Regions from separate parts of the Homo sapiens genome. Here all the other regions are linked to region 1. Evidence: fine-mapped expression QTL. A gene starts in region 1. Each other region holds a variant in brackets. All regions are shown on one strand. Distances are from middle to middle.

Region 1 (5,100 bases):
TGGGAGAGGGTTGCAGAGAACCCCGAGGGAGAAGCTGAATAAGAGAAGGGGAGACTGGGCCTGCATCGGGGAGGGAGGAGGGAATTCCCAGCTCCAGCCTGGTCTGCCTGGCTCCAGTGAAGCCGGCTGTTTCCTGCCCTCGGTGACCGGCCCACCCCCCCCAACCCGGGCGCAGGACCCAGGCAGAACAGCAAGGAAGGGCAGGGGTGTGGGGAACACCTCTTGCAGCAGGAAGATAAGTAAGCCGGGACAAGAGGTTATCACAGGCCCGGCTGTCCTTTCTGGGACGTAAGGGCGCTTGGCAGCCCCCCAAGCATCCTGGACTCCAACGTCTCTCTTGCTGGGCTCCAACGTCTCTCTTGCTGGGCTCCTCAAGATTCTGTCCTCCGGCTGGGCGCGGTGGCTAACGTCTGTAATCCCAGCACTTTGGGAGGCCAAGGTGGGTGGATCACTTTAGGTCAGGAGTTCGAGACCAGCCTGGCCAACATGGCGAAACCCTGTCTCTACTAAAAATACGAAAACTAGCCGGGGTTGGTGCCCTGTGCCTGTAATCCCAGCTACTCGGGAGGCTGAGGCAGGAGAATCGCTTGAACCTGGGAGGCGGAGGTTGCAGTGAGCCCAGATCACGCCACTGCACTCCAGCCTGGGAAATAGAGGGAGACTCTGTCTCAAAAAAAAAAAAAAAATCTGTCCCCGCTAATTACTGTGGGAGTCTAAGTCCTTTCCTTCTGCCCCTTGGAGGGGCTGACTCCTGGAGCAGCACCCCCTCCAATCCATCTATCCAGTAACCCATACTGTTAAGTTCCCTGAAGTAGAAGGGGGTTGGTGGGAGGAGCACGGCTGTGCTGGACCCTCCCCGCTAACTGATGGGAGGGTGAGGGGAGTTGGCAGTGAGAGGAAGGGCCCCTCCCAGCCATCCCGAGGGCCCCCAGGAGCCAGACAGGAAACAGCTCAGGAAAGACAGCAGCCGCAGCCGCAGCCCCAGCCTCAGGGGTCATGGCTGCGGGCGGCGGGGAAGCCCCCCCAAAACACGAGAGTGAGAGTGAGAAGGGCGATTTGGAGATCTAGCCGGACCCCTCACCCTCTCGGACACACCCACCTTTTTTTTTTTTTTTTTTTTTTTTGAGATTTCGTCTCACTCTGTAGCCCAGGCTGGAGTGCAGTGGCGCGATCTCAGCTCCCAGCTCACTGCAACCTCCGCCTCCTAGGTCCCGGTTCAAGCAATTCTCCTGCCTCAGCCTCCCGAGTAGCTAGGATTACAGGCGCGCGCCACCATGCCCAGCTAATTTTTGTATTTTTAGTAGAGACGGGGTTTCATCATGTTGGCCAGGCTGGTCTTGAACTCCTGACCTCAAATGATCCGCCTGCCTCTGCCTCCCAAAATGCTGGGACTACAGGCGTGAGCCACCGCGCCCGCCACACCCACCTTTTCTTTACCGTTGTTTCCTCGATTTTTCTCTACTCCCTAGCGCAGCTTAGTGCGCGCCTCCTCTGGACATTTTTCAGGGCTTGGTTGCGCGCACAGTAGGTCCCCAACACTGAATGTTTATGGGGTGACTGTGTGAACGTTCGCTGCAAGGCTATCCAAACTGGGATTGCTCCTTGAGGCCCCCTGGGCGGCCGTCAATTCTCCAAAGCTTCTACTCCCTTTTCCTTCCTTTTCCCCCAAAACGCAGTCCCTGCGCCCACTAGAGGGTGGTGGGCGCATCCAAGAGCGGCATCTAGAGTCCGCAGCAAGGTCAGAGCGGGCTTTGTGTGCGCGGTGAACATTTACGTGCACGCCTGGGCGGCCCTCCGTGTTGCTGCTGGGTGTGTGTTTTCTCTGCTCCCTGGTGCCAGCCGGGTTCGGGCCTGTCCCGGGGGTCCCTGGGCCCCAGCCCCGACATGCTCGGTCCTGGACAGCGCGCACCGCCACGGCGCACATCTGGGCGGTCCCGGGGTTCCTCACCCGCCGCCCCTCCCCCTTCTCCAAACTTTCTCTCAACTTCCCGACCTGCTCCACTCGGTGCCCCTCTCCGCTTCCCTCATGAATTATTCAGTAGCGTGAGCTCCAATCAGCGCGCCCGGGGCTCACTCGCGGAGCCCCCGCGTTGGGAGAGCTGCCCCCGCCCCCCGCGCGCCCCTCCCTCCCGGGCCCGGCGCCGCCCGGCCCAGTTCCAGCGCAGCTCAGCCCCTGCCCGGCCCGGCCCGCCCGGCTCCGCGCCGCAGTCTCCCTCCCTCCCGCTCCGTCCCCGCTCGGGCTCCCACCATCCCCGCCCGCGAGGAGAGCACTCGGCCCGGCGGCGCGAGCAGAGCCACTCCAGGGAGGGGGGGAGACCGCGAGCGGCCGGCTCAGCCCCCGCCACCCGGGGCGGGACCCCGAGGCCCCGGAGGGACCCCAACTCCAGCCACGTCTTGCTGCGCGCCCGCCCGGCGCGGCCACTGCCAGCACGCTCCGGGCCCGCCGCCCGCGCGCGCGGCACAGACGCGGGGCCACACTTGGCGCCGCCGCCCGGTGCCCCGCACGCTCGCATGGGCCCGCGCTGAGGGCCCCGACGAGGAGTCCCGCGCGGAGTATCGGCGTCCACCCGCCCAGGGAGAGTCAGACCTGGGGGGGCGAGGGCCCCCCAAACTCAGTTCGGATCCTACCCGAGTGAGGCGGCGCCATGGAGCTCCGGGTGCTGCTCTGCTGGGCTTCGTTGGCCGCAGCTTTGGAAGGTGAGTTTCCTTGCGGGGGGGGGCGCACCCCGTCACTCCTGGGACCTCCCCCCCAACATCTGGGCCTCGGAGTGGAGGGGCCGGCCTCTGACTACCCCTACCCGGGCACTGCAGTCCCAAACACTTCGGACCGATAGTGCTGGAACGGGAGGGGGGCGGGGAAGAGGCGCCCGACGGGTAGTGGAGTTTTCTTTTGTTTGGGAAAGAGATGGAGTCTGGCTACGACCCGGGACATTCCCCTGCCCGGGCTCCCCGAACTCTCACTGCTGATTACATACGCCCCTGGCTGCCTTTCCTTTCCTCCCTACCCCACTATTCAAAACTATCTGCAAAGTTTCTGTCCCAGTCCCACCTCCCGCCGTACATGAGGGAAGGTTTCTGGAGAAGCAACAGCAGACAAGGCACAACTTTTCGTGCTAGGCCCTAAAACGACCCCCAGCGCCAATTCCTTAGCGATCACACCTTGATCCTCCAGTTCCACACTCCTGCAACAGGATGGCCTCCTTTGCATTCACACAGCAAACCCCCAAACCGCTCTCCCGCCCACTGCTCCTGCCCCTGGTATAGGGTGGCTCCTTGGTTTCTACAGGCTGCACCCCATCCCTTTAAATGCGGTCTAGACCCCGGCCCCAGGTGAGTCCCGGGCTTCCCTTGAGACCTAGGAGCGGGTAGAAACTGACCTACACAGCCCCCAGGTAGAAACTGACCTACACAGCCCCCACATCGCCCTAACTAACCCAGTCTATCTCCCACCTCCTGGTCTCTCCAAGCATTTCTTTGGCCATGGATCGCTGTCCCTCCTGGTCCCCTAAAGGGGGAGCCAAGAGCCCTAGAAACTCTCCTGTGTCCCTAATGTCCTTTCAGTGAGCTGCCAACACCCCCCTTTCTCTGTCTGGTATGAAAGTGGTTATGGGGCGGTAGGCTATGAGGGACTCCCAAAGGGAAGGATTCAGCGGCGTTAGAAAAACCCTCTCCCCCTGGCTGGGCAGGACTGCCCTGGGCTGGGGATCAAAGGCTAGGTGTGGGGTTGGGAGTGAGGGGAGGCTTGCCCAGCTCAGAGAACGGAGAAGGGGGAACAAAAACCATGAACGAGGGGAAGAGGAAGGCCAAAGGGGTGGAAAAACCACGAGGACGAGGTGTGGTGAGAAGGAAAGACGCAAAGAGGAAATGGTGATTGTGACACCTATTACCTGAGTGTTTCCAAGCACCAGGCCTGTGCTGAGCGCCTTACAAATATTAATTTCACCCATCCAGCAACGCTAAGGGTGGTGCTATTATTGCCCCCATTTTTCAGATGAGGAGGCTGGGGCTTAGTTAAGGTTAAGTAGTTTATCCAAGGCCCTGTGCCGCGAGGAACAGCGAGAAGTGGAGGCCGAAAGCGAAGGAGAGATAGTGACTGTCAGAAAGAGAAACGGAGGTGGACAGAGAGTGGAGGAGAGATAGGTGAGAGACATGCGAACTGACAGATCAAAGCGTGGCTGCAGCTGAGCTGGGACGCAGAAAGGGAGCCTGCGCTTGCTCTGGGCTGCGGACAGCCCGAGGCAGAGACAGTGTGTAAATTGGAGACAGGAAAACACTATCCCGGCTGGAACAATGGAGGGTGGAGACGGCAGCCTCTATCCACCCCCTTCCCAGAACCCGGGCATCCTGTCCCCAGTGAGCAGGGCTGTCTCTTGCCACCCATGGGGACCTTGCGCCTCTCACCTCAGGCTGGCTGGCTTCCCATCTGACCCCTAGCTGGAGGACATCATTTGGTCCCCAGGAAGAGGCTGCCTCACCCACCCTCTTTCTCTTCTCTCCTGCAGCTCCCATGGGGTGGGAGCCAGGTGTTCTGGCTCCCCTCTCCACCCTTCCCAGCGCCCAATGCCCCCCACATTGCCGGCCCCCGAGGGGATTCCTGTACCCTCCCTCCTCCACTCTCCACTGCCAGGGGCTGTGCAGTTTTTCCTAATCCCCCCCCTTCCTCCAGTGCCTGTCCCCTCCCCCGATGATCCGAGCCAAGCCAGGTGTGTTCACCCCTCCCATTCATACCGCCCCCCAGAATCTCCTCCCCTCTGCCTTCCCATAACCAAATCCAGATGTGAGGCCTCGGCGGGAGCCTGGGAACCCTAGCATCCCGACCTCCAGTGCTTCCTGATCAGGGCACTCGTGGGGAGGGAGGTACTGGGATGGGGGCCAGGGCTATGCCCCAGGCACGGAGCGCTCCCTTCAAGGAGGGAAGGACGGGGTGTTTGGTCTGAAAGCAGAGAGGGGTCTTGGACAGGGAATGAAATTGTGGGGTAGAGAGGCTGATTCTGGGACTTAGGGGAGGAAACGTGGAGGCTGAGACAAGAGGTTCCCCTCCCACACCAGCAGCCTCTGCTCGTGGGGGTCAGGACCAGGGCGCAGCTCTCATTTTAACCC
Region 2 (5,100 bases), 22 kb after region 1:
GAAGGCTCACCTGAGGGAGTTGGGGGGCTTGCCCTACAGGTGAGTTGTGAGGTGGGTCTGGAAGTGACAGATGCAGTTTAGGAAGTGGACGGGAGGCTGGGTACGGTGACTCAACATCTGTAATCCCAGTGCTTTGGGAGACCCAGGCGGAAGGATCGCTTCAGGCCAGGAGTTAAAGACCAGCCTGGGCAACATAGTGGGAACCTATCTCTACTAAAAATTAAAAAATTATCCAGGCATAATGGCACATGCCTATTGTTCCAGCTACTCAGGAGGCTTGCCTGAGCCCAGGAGGTTGAGGCTGCAGTGAGCTATGATGGCACCACTGCACTCCAGCCTGGGCGACAGAACAAGACCCTGTCTCTAAAAAAAAAAGATGTGGATGGGAGGGGGAACGGTGGGTGGGCTGTCCTCACCAAGCCCCCACCCTATCTGCTCTCCAGCTAAACGACGGACAGTTCACAGTCATCCAGCTCGTGGGCATGCTGCGGGGCATCGCCTCGGGCATGCGGTACCTTGCCGAGATGAGCTACGTCCACCGAGACCTGGCTGCTCGCAACATCCTAGTCAACAGCAACCTCGTCTGCAAAGTGTCTGACTTTGGCCTTTCCCGATTCCTGGAGGAGAACTCTTCCGATCCCACCTACACGAGCTCCCTGGTAATGCTGGGGGTAATACTGGGTGTGAGCTTCTTAGGGCCAGGTGGGCAGGGCAGGTTGGAAAGGTGGGAGGCTGAGGGTTTGGCAGCCCTGCTCCAGGGAGAGGATACAGGAGCAGGCTGTGGGTGGGGGGACAGTCAGCTCCAGGAAGCCGACTTCCAGATGTCTAGGAAAATAACAGTTGGATAACCTGGGCAACATAGCAAGACCCCATCTCTACAAAAAAATTAAAAGATTAGCCAGGCGCAGTGGCATGCACCTGTAGTCCCAGCTACTTGGGAGGTTGAGGCAGGAGGATTGCTTAAGCCCAGGAGTTGGAGGCTGCAGTGAGCTATGAATGTGCCACTGTACTGCAGACTGGGCGACAGAGCAAGACCCTGTCTCAAAAGAACAGTGGCCAGGTGTGGTGGCTCACGCCTGTAAATCCAGCACTTTGGGAGGCTGAGGCAGGAGGATCGCCTGAGGTCAGGAGTTCGAGACCAGCCTGGCCAACATGGGAAAACCCTGTCGCTACTAAAAATACAAAATTAGCTGAGGGTGGTGGTACACGCCTGTAATCCGAGCTACTCAGGAGGCTGAGGTAGGAGAACCAGTTGAACCCGGGAGGCGGAGTTTCAGTGAGCCAAGATCGCACCACTGCACTCCAACCTGGGCAAACAGAGTTGGAGAGTAGGAGGCTTGGGGCCTGAGCTAGGGGGAAAAAGCAGAGGCAGGTGGGGGACTGGGGGGCAGTGTGCTGGGTCTGGTGAGTCCCTCAGTGAGTCCCCCAGCTCACCTTTTCTCCTTTTTCTGCAGGGAGGAAAGATTCCCATCCGATGGACTGCCCCGGAGGCCATTGCCTTCCGGAAGTTCACTTCCGCCAGTGATGCCTGGAGTTACGGGATTGTGATGTGGGAGGTGATGTCATTTGGGGAGAGGCCGTACTGGGACATGAGCAATCAGGACGTAAGTGTCCCGTGGTCCTACCAAGCTTTCCTCGAGTGTTCTCTCACCTGGGATTTGGGGTGAAGGGTGGGTTCCCAGAGAGTCATCACTGCTGGGTTCTTGAGACCATGGAGATGACAAAAAGGAGAATTGATCTTTGTATCAAAGAGTTGAGATACAGGGCCAGGCCTAGTGGCTCAAGCCTGTAATCCCAGCACTTTGGGAGGCCAAGGTGGGCAGATCACCTAAGGTTAGGAGTTCAAGACCAGCCTGGCCAACATGGTGAAACCCCGTCTCTAAAAAAATACAAAAAATTAGCCCAGCATGATGGGCGGGTGCCTGTAATCCCAGCTACTCAGGAGGCTGAGACAGGATAATCGCTTGAACCCAGGAACAGAGGTTGCAGTGAGCTGAGATCACGCCATTGCTTTCCAGCCTGGGCAACTGAGCGAGACTCTGTCTTAATAAATAAATAAAAGAGTTGGGTACAGCATATTTGGGTCGCAGAAGGATGCAGAGATGGAGGGCAGGGTTGAGAGGTAACATGTCTGTATCATAGCCCAAGAGCTGCTGGGGCCTTCAGCCACAGAGAGCTTCAACTCCGGCTAGGAGGATTCCTGGATCTGTTATTTTTTGGGGGGCTGTGGCTCCTATCCTACCATCTTCCAAGTCACCATTTCCTGGGCCTGTTAGCATCTTTGCTTTTCCTGGACAGCCTCACCCAGAGCTTCTTCCCCTCTTTCCAGGTGATCAATGCCATTGAACAGGACTACCGGCTGCCCCCGCCCCCAGACTGTCCCACCTCCCTCCACCAGCTCATGCTGGACTGTTGGCAGAAAGACCGGAATGCCCGGCCCCGCTTCCCCCAGGTGGTCAGCGCCCTGGACAAGATGATCCGGAACCCCGCCAGCCTCAAAATCGTGGCCCGGGAGAATGGCGGGTGAGGACTGCAGAGAATGGGCCCTCCTTCCCGCTCTCTGCCCCCACTCCTTGCCCAGAAGTGTCCGTTCATTGGTGTTGGGTGGGAGGGCCTCTGTCCGCCTCTGCAAGGCTGGGTTCCACCTCCTCCCCCGGACCTGGGCCTGGTACTCAGCATTCCTCCCCATCCTTGCCCCCTAGGGCCTCACACCCTCTCCTGGACCAGCGGCAGCCTCACTACTCAGCTTTTGGCTCTGTGGGCGAGTGGCTTCGGGCCATCAAAATGGGAAGATACGAAGAAAGTTTCGCAGCCGCTGGCTTTGGCTCCTTCGAGCTGGTCAGCCAGATCTCTGCTGAGTAAGCAGTGGCAGGAGCTGGAGTGGGGCTGGGAGAGCGGGGCAGCTGGAGTCAGGCCCACGGGGTCTCCAGGGGCTTTTGGGGTCAGCTTCGGGTGCCAATGCTGTCTTCTTGCACTGCGCTCATGCCATGCCTAGAAGGGCCCCAGAGGAGCAGTCACAGCCCCATGGAGCTGAGGACCCAAGGACTCTTTGGGGCCAGCCTGCCCGCCTCACCTCCTCCTGCCATCACAGCCCTGGGCCATC[G/A]CGCTTCCGCCTCTCACTTCTAGCTATCTTTGTGCATCTATCTGCATTCCAGGCCCGGCTCTCACGGTAACAATGTGTCAACTCGGGTTCTCTTTTTCCAACCATAAAAGGAGAAGATTGGGCTAGGTTTTGGAGATCCTCTTCAGCTTTTATGTGAAATGGTTTTATGATTCCTTGCCTCCCAAAGGCTGCGTATCCCCACTTGGCCTTTGTCTGCTACTCCCCCTTTCTGCCTTCCCGTTCCTCTCCCAAGATCTCCTCTCACCCCAGGTTGAATAACAGAAATAGAAGGAATAGAAATCTGAAGGCCGGGCATGGTGGCTCATGCCTGTAATGCCAGCACTTTGGGAGGCCGAGGTGGGCAGATCACTTGAGGTTAGGAGTTCGAGACCATTGTGGACAACTTGGTGAAACCTTATGTCTACTAAAAATACAAAAATTAGCTGGGCATGGTGGTGCGTGCCTGTAATACCAGCTACTGAGGAGGCTGAGGCAGGAGAATCGCTTGAACCCGGGAGGTGGAGGTTGCAGTGAGCCGAGATCGCACCACTGCACTCCAGCCTGGATGACAGAGTGAAATTCCATCTCAAAAAAAAAAAAAAAAAAAAAAAAGAAATGTGAAGGCCAGGTGGTGGCTCACGCCTGTAATCTCAGCACTTTGGGAGGCTCAGGTGGACCGATTGCTTGAGCCCAGGAGTTTGAGAGCAGCCTGGCCAAAATAGCAAAACCCCATCTCTACAAAACAAAAACAAAAAAATTAGCTGGGCATGGTGGTGCGTGCCTGTGGTCCCAGCTACTCAGGAGGCTAGAGCCAGAGGGTCTCAGGCCAGTCTGCCCCTGCCCCACGGGGCCTGGGCACATCCCTCCCTAATTCTTCCCAGCCTCTCTCTGACCCAGGGGGCCTCCTCTCCCTTTTTTCCCCTTATCTCAGCCTCCAGCCATCAGCAACCTCCTCTTCCTCTCCACCCAGCTCTTCCTCTCCCACTTCGGCCTTTTCTTTCTCACACTCCATTTCCCTCTACGGCAATCTGTGCAGCCTCTTCCCCCAGTCTCATTTTGCGGGCTTTTCTCTCTTTTCTTTCCTTCCCTGGCACCCAAGCCAAAGGCCCTGCCTCTGGCCTCCAGCCCTACCCCCTTCTGCGGTTGCACAGAAGGATGGCTGCCCAGCTCTTAAAAAAACTGCCCGGGAACTGTTGACATCTGTTCTCCCTCCCCCGCTGGCTTTTCTGATTGGCTTACAATCCTGAGGCTAGGACCGTCTCAGGAGCCAAGAGAGGAGAGCGGCCACAGGGAACCTAGGGTCTCACCAAGCTCTCCTTTCCTTCTGCAGGGACCTGCTCCGAATCGGAGTCACTCTGGCGGGACACCAGAAGAAAATCTTGGCCAGTGTCCAGCACATGAAGTCCCAGGCCAAGCCGGGAACCCCGGGTGGGACAGGAGGACCGGCCCCGCAGTACTGACCTGCAGGAACTCCCCACCCCAGGGACACCGCCTCCCCATTTTCCGGGGCAGAGTGGGGACTCACAGAGGCCCCCAGCCCTGTGCCCCGCTGGATTGCACTTTGAGCCCGTGGGGTGAGGAGTTGGCAATTTGGAGAGACAGGATTTGGGGGTTCTGCCATAATAGGAGGGGAAAATCACCCCCCAGCCACCTCGGGGAACTCCAGACCAAGGGTGAGGGCGCCTTTCCCTCAGGACTGGGTGTGACCAGAGGAAAAGGAAGTGCCCAACATCTCCCAGCCTCCCCAGGTGCCCCCCTCACCTTGATGGGTGCGTTCCCGCAGACCAAAGAGAGTGTGACTCCCTTGCCAGCTCCAGAGTGGGGGGGCTGTCCCAGGGGGCAAGAAGGGGTGTCAGGGCCCAGTGACAAAATCATTGGGGTTTGTAGTCCCAACTTGCTGCTGTCACCACCAAACTCAATCATTTTTTTCCCTTGTAAATGCCCCTCCCCCAGCTGCTGCCTTCATATTGAAGGTTTTTGAGTTTTGTTTTTGGTCT
Region 3 (5,100 bases), 23 kb before region 1:
GCCGCCGATCTGGGCCCAGGGTCGCTTTGCACCGTCTGATGCCCGCTTTCTTGCCTCCCTGCAGTGTTCTCACTTCCAGCAGAAATCCTAGAGCCTATGAACTCTACTGAGAGCTGAGACTCCTTCTTCACTCTTTACAGATCCCATGAACAGCAGTACCACCTGCCAACGCGTCCTCATATGTAAAATGGGCATAAACTCGAACCTCCCTCCTAAGGCTGTGAGTTCAGTGAGCATTTAATGGGCACTTTAGAACAACGCCTAAAGGTTTGATAAATTATCCCTTGCAAATAGCACTGCATTAAATTAGCCACTCTGTGAGGTAGGTACCGCTATTTCAATTTTTCAGATTAGGAAATTGGAGCTTGGAAAGTTTCAGATACATTTCCTTTTTTTTTTTTTTTTTTTTTTGATCCAGGAACTATTACACAGGCTGGAGTGCAGTGGCGCGATCTCGTGTCACTACAACCTCTGCATTTCCGGCTCAAGCATCCTCCTGCCTCAGCCTCCGCAGTGCCTGGAACTACACAGGCACACACCACGCCTGGCTAATTTTTAAATATTTTGTAGAGACCGGGTTTCGCCATGTTGCCCAGGCCTCTCTGGAACTCCTGAACTCAAGCATGCGCCTGCAGTCCCAGCTACTTAGGAGGCTGAGGCAGGAGGATCGCTTGAACCTGGGAGGCAGAGGTTGCAGTGAGCTGAGATCGCACCACTGCACTCCAGCCAGGGCAACAGAACGAGACTCTGTCTCAAAAAAAAAAAAAAAACTTTTTCAGGGTCAGTTAGTTATAAGCACTCCCTTGGCATACCCTGGCCTGTCCGTCACTGAACTCTGCTTCCATAAATCTCAACCTCCACCTTACCTTGTTAGTCTGTGGTTTTGCCTTGGACCTTGTCTTCATCAATGACTGCAGCCCCTCCTCTTCAGTTCACCTCTTCTACTGCGCTTATTAAAGAAAAAAATCTGACTCTTGTTAAAACAGTAAGTCAGACTTTATTCAGGACTATTTTGATTGGCACCAAGAAGGTGGCAAGGAGCTGGGTGCAGTGGGTCACGCCTGTAATCTCAGGACTTTGGAAGGCTGAGGCAGGAGGATCACTTGAGCCCAAGAGCTCCAGACCAGCCTGGGCAATAAAGTGGGACCTCATCTCTACAAAATTTTTTTTAAAAATTGGGCCAGGCACGGTGGCTCACGCCTGTAATCCCAGCACTTTGGGAGGCCGAGGTGGGTGGATCACGAGGTCAGGAGATTGTGACCATCCTGGCCAACATGGTGATACCCCATCTCTACTAAAAATACAAAAATTAGTTGGGCGTGGTGGCACGCACCTGTAATCCCAGCTACTTGGGAGGCTGAGGCAGGAGAATAGCTTGAACACGGGAGGCGGAGGTTGTGGTGAGCTGAGATCTCGCCATTACACTCCAGCCTGGGCAACAAGAGCAAAACTCCATCTCAAAAAAAAAAAAAAGAAGAAGAAGAAGAAAAGAAAATTAACCAGGCATGGTGGTGCACGCCTGTTGTCTCAGCTACTCAGGAGGCTGAAACTGGAAGATCCCATGAGCCAAGGAGGTTGAGTGAGCTATGATAGTGCCAGTGCACTCCAGCCTGGGTGACAGAGTGAGACCCTGTCTCAAACAACAAAAAAGACTGTGGCAAGGTGTAGTAGCTTGCACCTGTAATCCCAGTACTTTGGGAGGCTGAGGCAGAAGGGTCATTTGAGGCCAGGAGTTCAAGACCAGCCTGGGCAACACAGAAGACACTGTCTCTAATTTTTTTTTAAAATCAGCTGGGCATGGTGGCCCATACCTGTAGTCCCAGCTACTCAGGAGGCTGAGGTGGGAGGATGGAGGCTGTGGTGAGCTATGATCCTATGGCTGCACACCCATCTGGGTGATAGAGCAAGACCTTATCTCAATAAAAAAAAAA[AAAAAGAAAG/G]AAAGAAAAGGAAGGAAGGAATGAAGGAAGGAAAGAAGGGAGGGAGGGAGGGAAGGAAAGAAGGGAGGGAGGGAAAAGAAGGAGGCTGGGCATTGTGGCTCACGCCTGTAATCCCAGCACTTTGGGAGGCCAAGGCAGGCAGATCACTTAAGGTCAGGAGTTCAAGACCAGCCTGGCCAAAATGGGGAAACCCTGTCTCTACTAAAAATACAAAAATTAGCCGGGCGTGGTGGCAGGCAACCGTAGTCCCAGCCACTCGGGAGGCTGACGTGGGAGAATCACTTGAACCTGGGATGCAGAGGTTGCAGTGAGCCAAGATCACACCATTGTACTCCAGCCTGGGTGACAGAGCGAGACTCTGACTCAAAAAAAAAAAAGGGAAGGGAAGATGTTGGGGAGAGAGAGAAGGGGCACAGTAGAAAGAGGGTAGGATGGATGAACTCGGGATCCAGTGAGGTAGAGAACTGTTGGGCTCAGGCCTGACAGAGACTTTCTCCTTGACTAAATTTTAGTCTTCTCTGGGTCCTCTTTTTTTTTTTTTAGACAGAGTCTCCGTCTGTTGCCCAAGGCTGTAGGGCAGTGGCGCGATCTCAGCTCACTGCACCCTCCGCATCCCAGGTTCAACTGATTCTCCTGCCTCAGCCTTGGAGTAGCTGGGATGACAGGTGTCTGCCACCATGCCTGGCTAGTTTTTGTATTTTTAGCAGAGACAGGGTTTCACCATGTTCTCCAGGCTGGTCTCAAACTGCTGCCCTCAGTTGATCCACCCACCTCAGCCTCCCAAAGTGCTGGGATTACAGGTGTGAGCCACCGCACCCGCCCTGGGTCCTCTTCTTGACTGGGTCTCAATGTTGTGTTCCACTCCCTCCACATCCCACTGCCTTGCCAGGCCTGCCTAGCCCAGTTTAGAGTGAATCTGGGAGGTTGAGGGTGCAGTGAGCTGTGATCGCACCACTGCACTCCAACCTGGTTGACAGAGCAAGACCCCACTTAAAAAAGACATTTAAGCTAGGTAAGAAGGGAAGTGAAGGCTGGGCACGGTGGCTCACACCTGTAATCCCAGCACTTTGGGAGGCCGAAGCAGGAGGATCACTTGAGGTCAGGAGTTCAAGACCAGCCTGGCCATCATGGTGAAACCCCATCTCTACTAAAAATACAAAAATTAGCTGGGCCTGGTGGTACACGCCTGTAATTCCAGCTACTCGGGAGGTTCAGGCACTCCCACCTAGGCGACAGAGCAAGAGTCCATCTCAAAAAAAAAAAAACAAAAAACTAACCAAACAAAAAAACTCTCCTTATATTAGTTGTCTATCCTAGCTCTTTCTTTCTTTCTTTCTTTCTTTCTTTTCTTTCTTTCTTTCCTTTTTTTTGAGATGGAGTCTAGCTCTGTCACCCAGGCTGGAGTGCAGTGGCACGATCTCGGCTCACTGCAAGCTCTGCCTCCCAGGTTGAAGCGATTCTCCTGCCTCAGCCTCCCAAGTAGCTGGGACTACAGGCTCCCGCCACCACGCACGGCTAATTTTTTGTATTTTTAGTGGAGACGGGGTTTCACCGTGTTAGCCAGAATGGTCTCGATCTCCTGACCTCGTGATCCGCCCGCCTTGGCCTCCCAAAGTGCTGGAATTACAGGCGTGAACCACTGCGCCCAACCTCTTTTCAACATTTATACCCAGTCCCTTCACGATCTCATCCAGTCTCATAGTTCTATTTTTTCTGTATTTATTTATTATTTATTTATTTATTTATTTATTTATTTTTGAGACTTGGTCTCACTCTGTCGCCTAGGCTGGAGTACAGTGGCACCATCATAGCTCACAGCAACCTCTATCTCCCAGGCTCAAGCAATCCTCCTGCCTCAGCCTCCTGAGTAGCTATAGGCACATGCACCCATGCCTGGCTAATTTTTTATATTTTGTAGAGACAGGTTCTCACTATGTTGCCCAGGCTGGTCTTGAACTGTTGGGCTCAAGTAATCTTCCCACCTCAGCCTCCCAAAATGCTGGGATTACAGACATGAGCCACCGCACCCGGCCCAATCTGTTTTAATACCATCTATATGATAGTGCCTCCAAGGGTGTACCTCTAGCCCAGACCTCTACTCTGAACTTCAGGCTGTATAGCCAACAATCTACTACCATCTTTTTCTATTTTTTTTTTTTTTTTTTTTTTTTTGAGATGGAGTCACTCTGTCGCCCAGGCTGCAGTGCAGTGGTGAGAGCTCTGCTCACTGCAACTTCCACCTCCCGGGTTCAAGCGATTCTCCTGCCTCCGCCTCTCAAGTAGCTGGGATTACAGGCACGTGCCACCATGCCTGGCTCATTTTTGTATTTTTAGTAGTGATGGGGTTTCGCCATGTTGGCCAGGCTGGTCTTGAACTCCTGACCTCACGTGATCCGCCCACCTTGGCCTCCCACAGTGTTAGGATTACAGGCGTGAGCCATGGCACCCGGCTCTACTACCATCTCTGCTTGGACATCAAATGGGCAACTCAAGCTTGGTATGTCCAAAACTAAATACTCAAACTCCCACCACCTGCTCCTCCTGTGGTCCTCTCAGGCCGGAAACCTGGGGTTACACCGGAATACTCTCACATCCAACATCCACACCATAGACAATTCCTTTGGCCTCCACTTTCAAGTTATAACCAGTCTGCAACCACATTTTACCACCCAAGTCCAAGCCACCATCACCTCTTCCGCTTTCACAATAGCCTCCTAACTGGTTTTCCCACTTCTGCACTTGTCCCAAAATCTATTCTCAGCTGAGCAGCTAGAGGGGTGCTGTTTAGGTAAACATCCATTCCCGATGGGTGCCACCTTTCATAATTCTCCAATGACATGCCTTTCTCCTCAAAGCAAAAGCCAAAGGCCACATCTGTAAATATGATGGCCTGACTCACCAACTACAGTCCTGCTGTATGCCTGATGCCTTGACTTCAATATTAACAGCATCTCCCGGCTGGGCGCGGTGGCTCACGCCTGTACTCCCACCATTTGGGGAGGCCAAGGCGGGTGGATCACTTGAGGTCAGGCGTTTAGGACCAGCCTGGCCAACATTGTATTTCCATTAATGTAGCAGGACGAGCCGCAGACAAAACTCCTCAGACACTGAGTTAAAGAAGGAAGGGGTTTATTCGGCCGGGGGCATCGGCAAGACTCTT
Region 4 (5,100 bases), 78 kb after region 1:
GTGGGGGTGGTGGGCTCTTCTGTGGGGACGGTGGGTTTTTCTGTGGAAATGGTGGGTTTTTCTGAGGGAATGGTGGGTTTTTCTGAGGGAATGGTGGGTTTTTCTGTGAGGATGGTGGGTTTTTCTGAGGGAATGGTGGGTTTTTCTGAGGGCATGTTGGGTTTTTCTGAAGGAATGGTGGGTTTTTCTGTGGAGATGGTGGGTTTTTCTGTGGGAATGGTGGGCTTTTCTTTGGGGACTGTGGGCTTTTCTGTGGTGACACTGGGTTTTTCTATGGAAACTGTAGGTTTCTTGGTGGAGATTGTAGGGTTTTCTGTGAGGCCAGTGGTTTCAGAAGGGCCAGTGGAAGAAACTGGAGATACGGGAGGAAGCTCTGGTAGCACTTTTACTGCAAAGAAAAATAAGAATCCCTGGAGTTTAGTCAAAACCATACCACCACCCTCTTTACTGCCATCTAACTGGAGTGGGCTCCCATGGGTGGCTTATTCACACCTCTCTTTCTACTCCCAAACCCCAACCTTCATCCACTCAACGAACACTAATATATGTCAGATATTATGCCAGAAATGAATAGGATATGGGTCCAGCCTTCAAGACTGCAGAGGAAGGAGTTCTGGATCCAGCCCCCAAAATCCATGGTATCGAAGCCACATTCACCCAGGCAAACATCTTGAAGTGCAGGGGAAGGAGAGGTGTGTTGAAGATGGAAAACAAAGCCAGCTGGGTGAGAATTCGGGCTCCAGGGAGGACTCACATTTTAAGCAGTTCATAGAGAGAACTCCAGGGAACCTCAGGGCACCGCCCCCTTCCTGGAGCCTGGGCTTTGGTCTTACCTGGACAAGTCCCAGGATTGATCAAGATGAAACCCATAGCAACCACAGAGGCCGTGTTGCTTCCCTGGATGCCCTTGAAAATAAGCTAAAGGCGACAAGGGAGAGAGACGGAGAGAGAAACAAAAATGAATCTCCAGCAACTCTGTGATTCCACTGGGCATAGAATCTGTTCTCTGCCAAAATGTCGCCTTGTTCCAGCCTCAACAGTCCAGCCCCATCCCGGCCCCTTTCTCACTTTCTGTAACACGAAGTTCCCCTTTTCTCGGCTCTCTTTCCAGCTTTCCACCTCTTCAGCACTGGTGGCGCCCCCAGATCCCAGGCATTGGCCCTCTCACCTCACACAGACAGGACCCCCGCCTCCGTCTCTCACCTGCATGGGCTGTTGGTGTCCTGAGGGGACGGTGACGGAGGTGTTCTGCCAGTAAGGGCGCTGAGACCCCACGCGTTTCCAGAGAGGAATCGGGGGACTCCCCGCAGGACTTCCCAGGAGGAGTTCGAGCATAGTACCCTCCCCAAGGCCATACATGTGGTATGCGAACTCCACGCAGATGTCACCTGGGGCGCAGAAGGGCCGGCTCACCAGTCTGACTGACTGGCCTGCCTGGGAGAACTCGTCAGCCTCAAGGTAGATATAGTGACCCCCTAGGCAAAGGAAGGGAACAGGCAAGGTAAGAAGCCTGCACAGGACATGCCAACTGCTGCTTTAGCAAAGCTTTGCTTTCTGAACGGGAATCTGAGCAAACACTCAAATTTCCCAGGTCGTAGCATTATTTTTTCTGCTCATTTTAGACATCTAACTAAAGAAGGTGGGATCACAAAGAAAGGGAAAAGCGGCCAGGCACGGTGGCTCATGCCTGTAATCCCAGCACTTTGGGAGGCCGAGGCTGGCGGATCACGAGGTCAAGAGATCAAGGCCATCCTGGCCAACATGGTGAAACCCCGTCTCCACTAAAAATACAAAAATTAGCTGGGCGTGGTGGCCCGTGCCTGGAGTCCCAGCTACTCGGGAGTCTGAGGCAGGAGAATTGCTTGAACTCCGGAGGTGGAGGTTGCAGTGAGCCAAGATCACGTCACTGCACTCCAGCCTGGCAACAGAGCAAGACTCCATCTCAAAAAAGAAAAAAAGGGAATAACAAACCAGCAACCTAGATTACATTCATTAATGTCGTGTGTGTGTGTGTGTGTGTGTGTGTGTGTGTGTGTGTGTTGTTTTTTTGAGATGGAGTCTCGCTCTGTTGCCCAGGCTGGAGTGCAGTGACACGATCTCAGCTCACTACAACCTCCACCTCCCAGGTTCAAGCGATTGTCCTGCCTCAGCCTCCCAAGTAGCTGGGATTACAGGTGTGTACCACCATGTCTGGCTAATTTTTGTGTTTTTAGTAGAGGTGGGGTTTCACCATGTTGGCCAGGCTAGTCTTGAACTTTCGGCCTCAAGTGATCCACCCGTCTCAGCCTCCCAAAGCATTGGGATTACAGGTGTGAGCCACTGCACCCCACCCTCATTATTGTCTTTTTAAAAAATTATTTCTTTATATATATATAT[G/A]TGTGTGTGTGTATATATATATGTGTGTATATATATGTGTGTGTGTGTATATATATATATATATATATATATTTTTTTTTTTTTGAGACGGAGTCTCACTCTGTCACCCAGGCTGGAGTACAATGGCGTGATCTCGGCTCACTGCAAGCTCTGCCTCCCGGGCTCACGCCATTCTCCTGCCTCAGCCTCCCGAGTAGCTGGGACTACAGGCGCCCACCACCATGCCTGGCTAATTTTTTGTGTTTTTAGTAGGGACGGGGTTTCACCGTGTTAGCCAGGATGGTCTCGATCTCCTGACCTTGTGATCCGCCCTCCTTGGCCTCCCAAAGTGCTGGGATTACAGGTGTGAGCCACTGCGCCCAGCCTCTTTTTATATATTTTTAAGACAGAATCTTACTCTGTTGCCCCGGATGGAGTGCAGTGGTGCGATCTCAGCTCACTGCAGTCTCCACCTCCTGGGGTCAGGCAGTTCTCCTGCCTCAGCCTCCTGAGTAGCTGGGACTACAGGTGCACGCCACCACTCCCGGCTAATTTTTACATTTTTTTTAGTGGAGTCAGGGTTTCACTATGTTGCCCAGCTGGTCTCGAACTCCTGACCTCAAGTGATCCACCTGCCTCGGCCTCCCAAAGTGCTGGAATTAAAGGCGTGAGCCACCATGCCTGGCCTATTTTTTTATTTTTAATTTTTAGAGACAAGGTCTTGCTCTGTTGCCCAGGCTGGAGTGCACTGGTTCAATCATAGCTCACTGCAGCCTTGACTTCTGAGCTGAAGCGATCCTCCCACATCAGCCTCGCAAGTAGGTGGGACCACAAGCACACACCACCACATCTAGCTAATTAAAAAAAAATTTTTTTTTCTAGAGATGGGGTTCTCACTATGTTGCCCAGGCTGAGCTCAGACTCCTGGGCTCAAGCAATCTTCCCGTCTCGGCCTCTCAAAGTGCTGGAATTGCAGGCATGAGCCACTCATAAACGTCTAGACTGAAAATGAGGTGGTGGGTTTTGAAGCTTTGGGCTCCATGAAGTGAGATGCCTGGGTTTTCTCAGGATTTCAGTGACCCCCCAGCCCTGAGAATCTTTAAGTTACTCTGCTATCTCCACAATTCCAGTACCATGGAAACTTCCGAAAAAACACCTGTGGACTGATCTTCCCACTGCCTGAAACAACGTCTCCCATCAGTCACAGCAGCCAGCCTGCTACCTGGGAGCAGACTGAGTGATTTCTTGGCGTGAGCGCTCCTCAATCTCCTCACCTGCATTAGGGAAACCTCCCGCAGGGCCCATGCCATGGACGGGTCCATTTTTATGTCCGAGGGCCCAGTGTCCACCATCCCCGGAAGTCTGGACCCAGTCACAGAAGGGATGGGCGTTGTCTTCAAAGTCACACTGAGGAAAACCCTCTGGGGGATCAAAATAGGATATTTGAGCAAGTTGAGTGACGCTCTCCAGCCCTCCCCCAGCCCACCCCGGATTCTGAGAGATCCGGGCCTCTCAGGGCCTGCTCTCACCCCCACAAGGAGCAATGCTGGTTGCATCAACTGCCACAGCTGGCTCTGGGGTCTTTCCAAAAACGCCTACCACGGCAAACTGGAGAGAAAGGGAGATGGAGCAGGAGTGAGCACACAGCCCACACCCCCAAGCCCCTGATCTAACTCGACTCCATTCCAGGACCCAGAATCCCTACTCCCTGTGCCCAGACCCTCAATTCAGTTCTTTCTTTCTTTTTTTTTTTTTTTCAGAGTCTTGCTCTATTGCCCAGGCTGGAGTACAGTGGTGTGATCATAGCTCACTGCAGCCTTGACCTCCAGGGCTCAAGTGATCCTCCCACCTCAGGCTCCCTAGTAGCTGGGACTACAGGCACACATCACTGTGCCCGCCTAATTTTTGTATTTTTTTGTAGAGATGGGGTCTTTCTATGTTGCCCAGGCTGGTCTTGAACTCCTGTCCTGAAGCGATCCTCCCTCCTCAGCCTCCCAAAGTATTGGGAATACAGGCATGAGCCACAGCACCAGGCCCCTCAATTTATTTCAACATTGGGTGTGCCTACCATGTGCAAGGACCTGACCCCTTGCTTCTCTGTACCTGTATCCGTCCCACGGCTGTGTAATTGACAGAAACAGCCTGCCAGTTGGGCCCAGGTTGTCCTGAGAAGAGAGTGTGTTTCCGGATACTCCCTGCAGTGAAAGGAATTGGAAGGAGAAGTGAGCTTAAGGGGACTGGGAAACGACTTTGAACTATACCTAGGAGGATGAGGAGCAGAGGGCATAGCTGGGGACGATTACCACCAAATGAAAGCACAATCTTCTTTTTTATTTTATTTATTCATTATTTTTTTTTGAGATGGAGTATTGCTCTGTTGCCCAGGCTGGAGTGCAGTGGCACTATCTTGGCTCACTGCAACTTCTGTCTCCCAGGTTCAAGCGATTCTCCTGCCTCAGCCTCTTGAGTAGCTGAGATTACAGGCGTGTGCCACCACACCTGGCTAATTTTTGTATTTTTAGTAGAGACAAGGTTTCTCTATGTTGGCCAGGCTGGTCTCGAACTCCTGACCTCAGGTGATCCACCAGCCTCACCCTCCCAACGTGCTAGGATTACAAGCATAAGCCACTGTGCCAGGCCAGCACAACTTTCTTTTTTATTTGAGAGGGAGTCTTGCTCTGTCACCAGGCCGGAGTGCAGTGGCGCGATCTCGGCTCACTGCAACCTCCGCCTCCCGGGTTCAAG
Region 5 (5,100 bases), 130 kb after region 1:
CACTGCATTCCAGCCTAGGCAACAGAGCGAACTCCGTCTCAAACAACAACAACAAAAACCCAAATTGATCTATAGGCGTAATGCAATTCCTACAAAAATCCCAGCAGTTTTTTTGTATTAAATATAGATGTTTATTCTAAACTTTATATGGAAAGGCAAAAGAAGTAGAATAGTTAAAACCACTTTGAAAAAGTTGTTGGAATCACACTACCTGATTTTAAGACTTACTATATAAATAAAGTTATCAAGAAAGTATGGTTTCCCCAGTGGGATAGACACAAAAATCAATAAGATGGAATTGAGAGCTCAGAAATAGATTCACACAAGTGCAGCCAACTATCTCTCTTTAAAAAATAATTTTTTGTTTGTTTATAAGACAGTGTCTCACTTTGTCACCCAGGCTTGGAGTGCAGTGGCACAATCTTGGCTCACTGCAGCCTCAACCTCATGGGCTCAAGTCATCTTCCCGCCTCAGCCTCCCAAGTAGTTGGGACTATCAGCACGCGCCACCATACCCGGCTAATTTTGTTTTATTTTTTGTAGAGACGAGGTCTTACTACGTTGACCAGGCTGATCTCGAACTCCTAGACTCAAGCAATCCTCCTGCCTCAGCTCCCTCAAAGTGCTGAGATTACAGGCGTGAGCCACTGCCAAACAACTTGTTTTTGACAAAGGTATAAAAGCGTTTCAATGGGGAAAGGATGATCCTTTCAAGTGGTGGTGAAACAATTGGACAAATAGGCAAAGAAATGAGCCTCAGCCCTATGCAAAAAGTTAATACAAAATGGATAGTAGATTTAGGAAAAAACTTCATGGTGTAGGGTCAGGTGAAGAGTTTTGTTTTTTTGTTTGTTTGTTTTTTTGAGATGGAGTCTCACTCTGTCGCCCAAGCTGGAGTGCAGTGGCGCGATCTCGGCTCACTTCAACCTCTGCCTCCCGGGTTTAAGAGATTCTCCTGCCTTAGCCTCCTGAGTAGCTGGGATTACAGGCACATGCCACCATGCCCAGCTAAAGGCGAAGAGTTCTTAGACATGACTCCAAAAGCACAATCCATAAAAGAAAAACAATTGGGCTGGGCACGGTGGCTTATGCCTGTAATCCCAGCACTTTGGGAAGCTGAGGTGGGTGGATCACCTGAGGTTAGGAGTTCAAGACCAGCCTGGCCAACATGGTGAAACCCCGTCTCTACTAAAAATACAAAAAATTAGCCGGGCGTGGTGGCATGCGCCTGTTATCCCAGCTACTCAGGAGGCTGAGGCAGGAGAATCGCTTGAATCCGGGAGGCGGAGGTTGCAGTGAGCTGAGATTGCGCCATTGCACTCCAGCTTGGGCACCAAGAGTAAAACTCCGTCTCAAAAAAAAAAAATGATAAATTGGACTTCATCAAAATGTTTAAACATTTGCTGTGTGAAAGATCACATTAATAAGATGAAAAGAGTAGCCACAGACTGGAAGAAAATATTTGCAAATCATATATCCAACAAAGGACTTGTTTCCAGCATATATAAAGCACTCTCTAAGCTCGAGAGGTAGAAACCGAACAACCCAATTAGAAAATGGGCAAATCCAGCCTGGGCAACATGGTGAGATCCTGTCTCTACAAAAAATTTAAAAATTAGCCAGGCCTGGTGGTCTGTGCCTACAGTCCTAGCTACTCAGGAGGCTGGGGTAGGAGGATTGCTTGAGCCCAGGAGGACAGCACTGCAATGAACTGTGATCATACCACTGCACTCCAGCCTGGGTGACAAAGTGAGGGTCTGAGAAAGAAAGAGAGAGGAAGGAAAGGAAGAAAAAGGGAAGGAAGGAAGGAAGAGAGGAGAGAAAGAGAGAAAGAAAAAACAGAAAAAAGGAAGGAAGGAGGGAGGGAAGGAAGGAAGCAAGCAAGCAAGCAAGCGGTGGCTCTTGCCTGTAATCCCAGCACTTTGGGAAGCTGAGGTGGGTGGATCACCTGAAGTTGGGAGTTTGAGACCAGCCTGGCCAACACGGTGAAACCCCGTCTCCACTAAAAATACAAAAATTAGCTGGGCGTGGTGGCGGGCGCCTGTTAATCCCATCTACTCGGGAAGCTGAGACTTGAAAATCGCTTAAACTTGGAAGGCAGAGGTTGCAGTGAGCCAGGATCACACTATTGTACTCCAGCCTGGGCGACAGAGCAAGACTGTCTCAAAAAAAAAAAAAAAAGAAAAGAAAAAGAAAATGGGCAAATCTTAAACGGACATTTCAGTGAAAGAGAGTATAAGAATGGTAAATAAGCACATCATAAGATGTTCAATATCACTAGCCATTAAGGAAATACACATGAAAACCATGACGAGCTACCAATAACACGTATTGAAATGGCTGAAATACAAAATACGAACAATACCAAGTGTGGATGAGAATGCAGGGAAACTGGATCTCTCATACATACACTGCTTGTGGAAGTGGAAAATCGTACAGCCATCCTAGAAAACAGTTTGGCAGTTCCTTCTAAAATTAAACGTACACTTACCAAATGACCCAGCAAGAACATTTCTTGGCATTTAAAAATCTGTACATGAACATCCATAGCATTTTTTTTTT[C/TC]TTTTTTTTTTTTTGAGATGGAGTCTTAATCTGTCACTCAGGCTGGAGTGCACTGGTGCAATCTCAGCTCACTGCAACTGCTGCCTCCCAGATTTAAGCAATTCTCCTGCCTCAGCCTCCCGAGTAGCTGGGATTACACATGCATGCCACCACGCTCAGCTACATTTTTTTGTATTTTTAGTAGAGACGGGGTTTCACTATCTTGGCCAGGCTGGTCTTGAACTTCTGACCTGTGATCCACCTGCCTCAGCCTCCCAAAGTGCTAGAATTACAGGCGTGAGCCACCGTGCCCAGCCCGTCCATAGCATTTTTATTTGTAATAGCCCAACGGGAAGCAACCCAGATGGCTTTCTTTTCATATTAATTTATTATGTAGAGATGGGGGTCTCCCTATGTTGCCCAGGCTGGTCTTGACCTCCTGTACTTAAGCAATCCTCCTGCCTCACCCTCCCAAAGCGCTGGGATTGCAGGTATGAGCCACCGACCTCCGGATAACTTTTGATCAGTGCATGGTAAACAATCTATGGCACATCCATCCCATGGAATATTACACAGCTATAAGGGATGGATCAAGGTGACCTGTTAGGCTGCGAACATACCAGTTATATTACATAATACTGTGCTGAACTGCTCATATTGTAGTGTGCAAGACAAGGTGAGCATGATCGCATGACCTGTGCTGAGGGGACATGAATAGGATTGGGTGGATCCCCAAGGAGAGACAGCCAATATCATCTTGAGGGATCCAAGGTTTTCCAAGAGGAAGTAATGATTAGGCAGAGACAGGAATGTTTAGCAGTAGGTCCTATATCCTGTTCCCTTTTTTTTGAGACAGGGTCTGGCTCTGCCACCCAGGCTGGAGTGCAGTGGCTTGATCTCCACTTACTGCAACCTCCGCCTCCCTGGCTTAAGCAATCCTCCCACCTCAGCCTCCTGAGTAGCTGGGACTACATGTGTGCACTGCCACGCCCGGATAATTTTTGTATTTTTTGTAGAGATGGGGTTTTGTCATGTTGTGCAGGCTGCTCTTGAACTCCTGGGCTCAAGCGATCCTCCCGCCTCAGCCTTTCCCAAAGTGCTGGGATTACAGATGTGAGCCACTGTGCCCGACCCATATCCTGTTCCAATACGGAGGTCTGAGCCCTGGGAGGATGGGGAGAAGAGGAGGAACCAGTAAAATCTGAGAAATAGCAGCTAGTGAGGTGGGAGGAAAACCAACAGAATATAGCATCCAGAAAGCCAGGTGAAGATGGTATTTCTGGAGGGAGTGACCGTCTATGTCACTGGCTGGTAACAGGTCATGTAAGATAATGGACCAGTAGATTTCACAATGTGGAAGTCATTGGTGACTTACAACGCAGTTACGTTTGGTTGAGCAAAGAACTTAGCGCAGGGCCAAAAGTAATTCTGAATGCAGTAAATTAATTTTAACGCCCATTATGTCTGATAATTAACAATAAGCACAGTTTATGAGCTATCACTCCATTACTCAGGTCATGTGTCTTTCCATGGTACCTAAAATATGTTTTGCAAACTCTGATATCCACATAAATATCAAGGCTCGCAATTTAGGTGGATGAAGACAAGCTCTGTAATAAACCGATTTGACAATAAACTGATCTGACAACAAGACAGTCCTTATCTCCTTGCATGCATTTCTTTTTTTTTTGAGACGGGGTCTCGCCCTGTCTCTCAGGCTGGAGTGCAGTGGCCCAATCTCAGCTCACTGCAACCTCCACCTCCAAGGTTCAAGTGATTCTCCTGCCTCAGCCTCCCGAGTAGCTGGGATTACAGGCGCCTGCCACCACGCAGGCTAATTTTTGTATTTTTAGTAGAGACGGGGGTTTCACCATGTTGGCCAGGCTGGTCTTGAACTCCTGAGCTCATGATCCACCTGCCTCGGTCTCCCAAAGTGCTGGGATTACAGGCGTGAGCCACCGCATCCAGCCCTCTCCTTACATTTCATCAAAGGAAAACACTGAAGAGGAATCTGCCATTAAAAAAAAAAAAGTGGGGGCGGGGCGGGCGTGGTGGCTCATGCCTGTAATTCCAGCACTTTAAGAGGCCAAGGCAGGTGGATCACGAGGTCAGGGGATCGAGACCATCCTGGCTAACACGGTGAAACCCCGTCTCTACTAGAAATACAAAAAATTGGCCAGGCGTGGTGGTGGGTGCCTGTAGTCCCAGCTACTCGGGAGGCTGAGGCAGAAGAATGGCATGAACCCGGGAGGCGGAGCTTGCAGTGAGCCAAGATCGTGCCACTGCACTACAGCCTGGGCATCAGAGGGAGACTCCGTTTCAAAGAAAAGAAAGAAAGAAAAAGGGCCAGGAACGGTGGTTCACGCCTGTAATCTCAGCACTTTGGAAGGCTGAGGCAGGCAGATCACCTGAGGTCAGGAGTTTGAGATCAGCCTGACCAACATGGCAAAACCCATCTCTACTAAAAATACAAGACGCTTGAACCCGGAGGAGCGGAGGTTGCACCACTGCACTCCAGCCTGAGCAACACAGCAAGACTCTGTCTCAAAAAAAAAAAAA

Alleles and levels. Positions count from the first base shown, and alleles are read on the strand shown. Sizes are in standard deviations (SD) of each study's normalised expression. Not every link is listed here.
In carriers of allele C in region 5, the expression in monocytes after interferon gamma of the gene that starts at base 2,153 in region 1 tends to be higher than with TC alone (moderate effect, 0.56 SD a copy in Fairfax 2014).

What was found.
Region 2: its variant is fine-mapped to the expression of EPHB4 in blood mononuclear cells (TOPMed, PIP 0.99).
Region 3: its variant is fine-mapped to the expression of EPHB4 in whole blood (INTERVAL, PIP above 0.99).
Region 4: its variant is fine-mapped to the expression of EPHB4 in whole blood (INTERVAL, PIP 0.96).
Region 5: its variant is fine-mapped to the expression of EPHB4 in monocytes after interferon gamma (Fairfax 2014, PIP 0.95).

What each region holds. Positions count from the first base shown.
Region 1 is chr7:100,824,576-100,829,675 of GRCh38, reverse strand. It overlaps EPHB4 (EPH receptor B4), which reads left to right and starts at 2,153. Exons shown (of 17, transcript NM_004444.5): 1 at 2,153-2,697. The coding sequence starts at 2,646. It also overlaps a transcript of SLC12A9 not described here. RefSeq lists enhancers at 1-557, 1,354-2,149.
Region 2 is chr7:100,802,924-100,808,023 of GRCh38, reverse strand. It overlaps EPHB4 (EPH receptor B4), which reads left to right. Exons shown (of 17, transcript NM_004444.5): 13 at 444-659; 14 at 1,455-1,604; 15 at 2,330-2,523; 16 at 2,703-2,858; 17 at 4,434-5,100. The coding sequence ends at 4,563. Among named protein-coding and RNA genes, the nearest start is that of EPHB4, 22 kb to the left of the region's middle. RefSeq lists enhancers at 746-1,945, 1,866-2,581, 2,582-3,297. The variant G/A (reference allele first, on the strand shown) is at 3,104.
Region 3 is chr7:100,847,096-100,852,195 of GRCh38, reverse strand. The region is part of intron 1 of SLC12A9-AS1 (SLC12A9 antisense RNA 1); the gene reads left to right. It also overlaps a transcript of SLC12A9 not described here. Among named protein-coding and RNA genes, the nearest start is that of SLC12A9-AS1, 3.0 kb to the left of the region's middle. RefSeq lists an enhancer at 67-266. The variant AAAAAGAAAG/G (reference allele first, on the strand shown) is at 1,932.
Region 4 is chr7:100,747,000-100,752,099 of GRCh38, reverse strand. ZAN (zonadhesin) reads right to left here. Exons shown (of 48, transcript NM_003386.3): 9 at 4,459-4,550; 10 at 3,885-3,963; 11 at 3,630-3,776; 12 at 1,204-1,475; 13 at 834-918; 14 at 1-388. Among named protein-coding and RNA genes, the nearest start is that of ZAN, 16 kb to the right of the region's middle. The variant G/A (reference allele first, on the strand shown) is at 2,377.
Region 5 is chr7:100,698,004-100,703,103 of GRCh38, reverse strand. No RefSeq gene overlaps it. Among named protein-coding and RNA genes, the nearest start is that of POP7, 5.6 kb to the left of the region's middle. The variant C/TC (reference allele first, on the strand shown) is at 2,563.